2 linked regions of the Homo sapiens genome follow. The protein of the gene in region 1 purifies or fractionates together with the protein of each later gene. This does not show direct contact. Each region holds a gene or a part of one and is shown on either strand. Other genes may lie near its edges.

The links. The genes of interacting proteins can lie anywhere in the genome.
Region 2: the proteins of NCEH1 (region 1) and CLGN purify together in Homo sapiens (co-immunoprecipitation; 2 studies listed by BioGRID and IntAct, with this or other methods). This does not show direct contact.

The regions. Positions count from the first base shown.
Region 1 is NC_000003.12:172,645,068-172,648,567, forward strand, and holds part of NCEH1 (neutral cholesterol ester hydrolase 1), read right to left. Parts: intron 3,048-3,500; coding exon 2,819-3,047; coding exon of another isoform or gene 2,795-2,818; intron 626-2,794; coding exon 556-625; intron 1-555.
Region 2 is NC_000004.12:140,407,149-140,410,648, forward strand, and holds part of CLGN (calmegin precursor), read right to left. Parts: intron 3,479-3,500; coding exon 3,405-3,478; intron 2,748-3,404; coding exon 2,689-2,747; intron 1-2,688. UniProt on the Homo sapiens protein: Functions during spermatogenesis as a chaperone for a range of client proteins that are important for sperm adhesion onto the egg zona pellucida and for subsequent penetration of the zona pellucida.

The DNA.
Region 1 (3,500 bases):
TATTATCATCAAAATTATTATAATTATTATTCACATTCTTCTTAGTTGCCCAGAAAAGTGGCTTATACAGAACTGACAGAGACAACCCAAAATATTAATATTACTACTATTACTACTAACCACACCATTAAAATTTGTTGAACACGTATTTCTGTTCCCAAGGCACAAGTCATAGAACCTGACTCTAAGAGAGCAACTTTTTCAACTCTCAGCTGTAGAAGAGATTCTCTTAAAATCCTTACTACTTTTTAGATTTAAAAAGTTATATGTTGCAGGTAACTGATTGCATACTTCTCTAGGTTTTTAGTTAATCCTTTTTTCAGTTTTCAAAACTAACGGTGAAAAGGTAATTTGAAGTGTTATAAAGCTAGTTCAATAAATTTTGTTACATCAGAAATCATTTTTCTGATTATGCTGAGTGTGACTTTGGGCATATCTCTTTGCCAACTTGAGACCTTTATTTTTTACTTTATCACTTGTAAAACAAAGTAACCAGACTGTTATCTAGAATTCCTTTATAAGAAAAATTTTCTATGACTAGCATTAATTACTTACTCAATGGAAACAATGACAGCATTCAATTCCTCAGCCATTGCTGTACACAGCTCATCATAATACCTGATTTCTAAAAGACACAAAGGGAACAATCATTACAAAACAGGTCATTTAATACTGTCCACTCATAAATTCTGCTAAGTGTGAATTGTTTTTAGGCTTGGAGCTAATACTAAAAACAAATAATAAAAAGCAAATGTGAACAAATAATAGAGTTACATGTACACATGAAAAATTAAATCTGATTTCTAATAACATGCAACTACTATATAACAGGAAATGCATAGTTTAGTTTTGAATATATTACTATCTAAATATTTATTTCATAACGGACTATATGAAATGCACCAAATTAATCCTGATTTTATAGCTCTTCAAATGTATACATCTTTCTGGAAAAAAAATCACAGCAAATAAGCAGTCTCTTCCTTAGAATCATGCAATTTTAGGCTGGGAGTGGTGGCTCATGCCTGTAATCTCAGCACTTCAGGAGGCTAAGGAAGGAGATCATTTGAGGTCAGAAGTTTGAGACCAGCCTGAGCAACATAGCCAGATGCTGCCTCTATAAAAAAATTTTTTTTAATTAGCCAGGCATAGTGGTGCACGCCTGCAGTCCCAGTTGCTTGGGAGGCTGAGGAAGGGGGATTACTTGAGCCCAAGAGTTTGAGGTTACAATGAGCTGTGATAGAGCCACTGTACTCTGGCCTGGGTGACAGAGTGAGATCTTATGTCTAAAAATAATAATTTTAACAATTTTGCTCTTTTAACACTTCATTTGCTGCAGTTCAGTAAAGTGATCAATTTGAAGAATATGGTATTTTCTTTAAATGAACACGTAAAAAACTAGAATTTTAGGAAGTCTTAGCATTTCTTAGAGGATTCCAAAGGTCTGCAGTAACAGAACCAATTTAATATGTAAGAATTTAATTCTTAGTTACTCTCAGTAAATTAAGATCTATATTGTGCCAACTGAGAGCCAAACATTTCCTTATTTATAGGGTTTCCAAGGCAGTCTTAGAATCGGAAGCTTAAGAATTACATAGACACCTGTTACCTCCACCTGCTCAAGTTCTTCCTCAGGCAGAAGTGATCAGTCAAAATTATGCAGAAAAGGCCAGGCTGACTCTTGTAATCCATCCCATTCCTGGCACCCATACTTGCTGTCCTCCAGTACAATGTTTTTCCTGGCAAGCGTCCAATGCTACAGATTCAATCTCTTTTAAGGCAGAAACTCCTTCTTATTCATTTTTGTATCCCTACACCCGAGCACACCTTAGACTGACCAATGGTCCAGACTTGCCCACAACTGTTTGAGCTTTTGCACTGAAAGACCTGCAGCCCAGCAAACCCCTTGGTCTCGGGCAAACCTACATACTCATGAACAGCTATTGAAAATGTGAAAAAAAATCACTGAATAAAAGAATAAACAACGGATATGGAATTAAATAAGATTACTAGAAAAAGTCAAACCTTTTGACCTTTGTTGCTTTTAAAAAAAAATCACATAATGATAAAATAAAAAAAACAAGTTGCCATTGCTTTTAAACTAAGGGGATGCCAAAAGCTCTGGACTGAAGATGAGGAAGTAGCTCCATGATCATTTATTAGCAGAGACAAGACCCCGAATTCCGCCTTGGGAGGTTCTCTTCTGGGCGGCTCTGTTTGGCTGCCTGCCATTTTGAATGTGTTCTACTCATAAAAATCATCCAAATCTAAAGAAAATATTCTTGAACTTTGCAAGATTGTTTCCTTTGAATGGTTGCATATATTTTTACCTTTGCTTTCATAAGCAGATAAAATGTTAACATGTGTATTAAGGAATACCTGGTCTATTTCATAGAAATATATCTTCAAAACACAAGTTGGCAAAAGAAGCACAGATAATTCCCCATATGCGTGCCTGGTGAAACTTCACCTTGTTTTGGTGCAGAAAGCTGTATCAGCACTGCACAATAAGTTAGTCTGTGATTTAGATCATAGGAAATATTTTTACAACAGTCTACCTGAATTGACAAACAAACTAACAAGCAAAAAACCTTTACAAAGGATAACCATTTAATTTATCACCCAAACCAGGACCCTTTTGAGAGTGAAAAGGGGGCACTAGTCATAATTTTGCTGGGACAACAGGGGTAACTGGGACCATCCAGGGGAACCTAGATAAATGGTCCCCTTCTTTCCCACTAAGAAAGCCAAACTCAGTTACGCATCTCCCCCAAGGCCAACCACAACAACAAACCATCTGAAGGTGACCAGGACGCACTTGCACTTGCCAAGGCCCAGCCTCCTCCGTGGATATAAACGACGCTGCGTTTCAGTGGCTCTTCGGGCTTCGGAGGGCCTTCAAACACTCTGACTTCCACACCATCAAAGTCTGTGTCGGTCACCTTCACTTGGGCAGAAGACCACGCGCTTTTTTTGCCAAAAGAAACAATGATAAAATTCAGTGCCAGCAGGTGATGGCTCAGTCCCAGGTAGTGGATCAGGTTACTCTGCAGGGCGAGGGAGGAAATAAAGAGGGAGGGCGCACGTCAACTTGGCATCACCAGAGCTGCCCTCACCAACTGAGTGTCTGAATTCCTACAAGCAGCTGCCACTGGACTGGAGGGCTCATTGAGCCCTTTTAATACAAAAACCAATTGTATTTACCTTTTGCTTTTGGACAAAATATTTTCATACATGAGATCTCCTCAGGTATCATCAGTCCCATTTTATTGAGAAGGCTTAAACAATAACTATGCTTGTTCATTTCATTGGATAAGTGGTAGTTCTGGGACTCAAACCTAAGATTAGGTTTGAATTCCAGGATTCAGTACCTTTTTTTTCTAAATAAGTATATCACAGTTCCAATAACATACTAGGAGTAAAGAAATAATACTTTATTTCAATGCAAATAAAAGAGGAAAATGTTCTATTTACTTTAATTTCTTTAAATTCCTTTGTAA
Region 2 (3,500 bases), on another chromosome or scaffold:
CTTTTCTTTCTCCCCCTGATTTGGTCATATTATATTTTTTTGAAAAAGATTAATGTACTTGGTTTTCTTTCTCTCACATTGATGGTGAATTGTATTATCACTAACTTGTAGTTTGCCTCTCGCCCCCTATAAAGGTCTTATTTTAAGAAGTAACAACTTTATCTGGAAGTCCTAGCCAGCGCAATCTGGCAAGAGAAAGAAATAAAGGACATACAAATTGGAAACGAGGAAGTCAAGCTATCACTGTTTGCTAATGATATGATTGCATACCTAGAAAACCCAAAAGACTCATCCAATAGACTACTAGACTTGAAAAATCAATTCAATAAAAGTCTCAGCTTACAAAATCAATGTACACAAATCAGTAGTACTGCTACATAGCAACAACGACCAAACTGAAAATCAAATCAAGAACTCAATGACTTTTACAATGGCTGCAAAAAAAAAAAAAAAAATCCCTAGGAATATTCTTAACAGAGGTGAAAGATCTATCTATACAAGGAGGACTACAAAACACTGCTGAAAAAAATCATAGATGACACAAACAAATGGAAACACATCCCATGCTCATGGATTGGAAGAATCAATATCATGAAAATGATCATAGCGCCCAAAGCCATCTACAGATTCAGTGTGATTATTGTGAAAATACCAAAAACATTTTTCACAGAATTAGGAAAAAAAATCCAAAAGTTCATATGGAACCAAAAAAGAGCCTGAATAGCCAAAGTAATCCTAAGCAAAAAGAACAAATCTGGAGACATCACATTACCTGACTTCAAATTATACAGGGCCATACTATCAAAACAGCATGGTAATGGTCTCAGGTAGACACATAGACCACTGGAACAGAATAAAGAACCAGAAATAAAGCAAAATACTTACAACTAACTGATCTTTGACCAAGCATACAAAAATATAAATTAGGGAAAGGACACCCTATTTAATAAATGGTACTGAGAAAACTGGCAAGCCACATATAGAAGAATGAAACTGGATCCTTACTTGTCACCTTATACAAAAATCAACTCAAGATGGATTAAAGACTTAAACCTAAGATCTGAAACCATGAAAATTCTAGAAGATAACACCAGAAAAACTCTTCTAGACATTGGCTTAGGCAAAGAATTCATGACCAAGAACCCAAAAGCAAATGCAACAAAAACAAAAATAAATAAATGGGACCTAATTAAACTAAAAAGCTTCTGCACAGCGAAAGAAATAATCATCAGAGTAAACAGATAACCCACAGTGTGGGAGAAAATATTAATAACCTATGAATCTGACAAAGGACTAGTATCCAGAATCATGAGACTCAAACAAATCAGCAAGAAAAAAATTAATCCCATCAGAAAGTAGGCAAATGACATAAATAGACATTTCTCAAAAGAAGATATAGAAATGGCCAACGAACATGTTTAGAAAATGCTCAACATCACTAATCATCAAGGAAATGCAAATTAAAACCACAATGAGATACTACGTTACCCCTGTAAGAATGGCCATTATTAAAAAGTCAAAAAACAATTGGCATGGATGTGGTAAAAAGGGAACATTTATACACTGCTGGTGCAATGTAAATTAATACAGCCTCTATGGAAAACAGCATGGAGGTTTATTAAAAAACTGAAAGTAGATCTACTATTTGATCCAGAAATCCCACTACTGCTTTTTCTGTGCATATGGTGGTGTCCTTTTTGGAGTTGATAAGCATATATATATATATATATATATATACACACACACACATATATATACACACATATATGTGTATATGTATATATATTTGTGTATATATGTATATATGTGTATATATATACACAGGGGATTTGCTGGGATGGCGAACACCATGCAAAGGAAGACATGCAGGTATGATCTTTATCTTACACTAAACAGAAACTATGAAAAGGAAGCAGACAGCTGACATCCAACATGCTATCTGTTTTGCTGTTGTGATGTAACTGCTTATCAGAGTCTGAGTGCAGGGCCACATGTTTATGAGTATGAGGTCCTCTGAGAAAGAAGAAATTACCACTATCAGTCACTGTGAGAAGAGGCTGATCTTGCTTCAGCATATAACAATCAAGGAGGCTGGTTTTTAGACCACAAAGAAGAAAATATTTGGTCATACTCTAGGGTAGTCCTATTAGGGAAGACAATATGACCCCTGCCTATAGGACATTTCTTTCTAGAGCTAAGGTTGAAGATAATCCTATTAGACACCCTATGATAATGGATATAGACCTGGAGATGAGGATTCCAGAAGCAGCCACATATCTTGTAGCTCTCATTAGCTATCTTCTGCTTTTTACTTGCTAGGAGAATCTTACCATAAATTATAATTTATTTAATTTATAGATCAAGGTGTGTCTATGCTTGAGATGAAACCATAGAGACAGCAGTAGCCTGGGAAATACTGCTTCAGGAAATGCAAAAGACTAACAGCAGTAGAGTGAAAATTCAACTGTTCAGTTAGAAAACTAGATTAACTGGCTTAAGAGTGAGATTTTCAGAAATAGCGAAGGGTTTTTCAGAAATATTGAAGAGGGACAAGATAAAAGACTGAACATTTTATTGTGAGGCAGGGTGGGGGACTCCAGCCAACACAATTTAACAAAAATCTAATCTCAAAGTTTAGTGAACTCCAGGCCATACTGGTTATATCTAATACTTAAATAAATATTTTACCATCGTATATTGAAATTTCCTCATCCATGTCATCTTTCTTTGCTTTTGATAAGACCCATCTGTAAATAAAGTTGAACATACATATATGTCATTGACAATAAAAGCAGCAATTTATAGATATAAGGCATACAGAAACACAATAAAAGATCACCCAATACAGTCACTTTTCATTCAACAATAAATTCATACTTAGATGCTAAATAAGGATGCCTACACATAATCCTGAAGGGCTAGAGTTAAACCGAATTTGGAATCTATAATTTACTAGCTGTATGATCACAGGTAAGGTACAAGAAACCTCGGTTTCTCCACCTGTAAAATGGGGATTAAATATGGTAATTATCTACTTTTTTTAAGGACATCTGACACATAATAATCATTTAATATTAACTTTTGTTTTTTCCATTATTTAGAGTAGAGCAGTACTCATATTTGTCATCTGAACTTAAGAGTGTTAATCTGTCCTAGAGAATAAAGAAATGTTATAAATTTCATCTTTGCATTCGGAATTAGTATATTTTCTTTGAATAAATAACTATTCAAATTAAACATTCTATCAATTACAAAAATATACTAAGTACTGATTTACATTGTCAATTAAACTACTTTAAAATTTTTTATAGATCTGTAGTAGAGATAATTTTCATAGGCCAAAACCTAATAACTTCAAAAAAGCTAATAAATCAAAGAAAACATTCTCTTGAATGAATACTCACCCAGCCAACCTTCCACTATCAAAAGTTTCTGCAAAATATACTTCTCCTATAGGTTGAGGTGTCTTATATTTAATCTAGAAAAGAGATTTTCCAAGT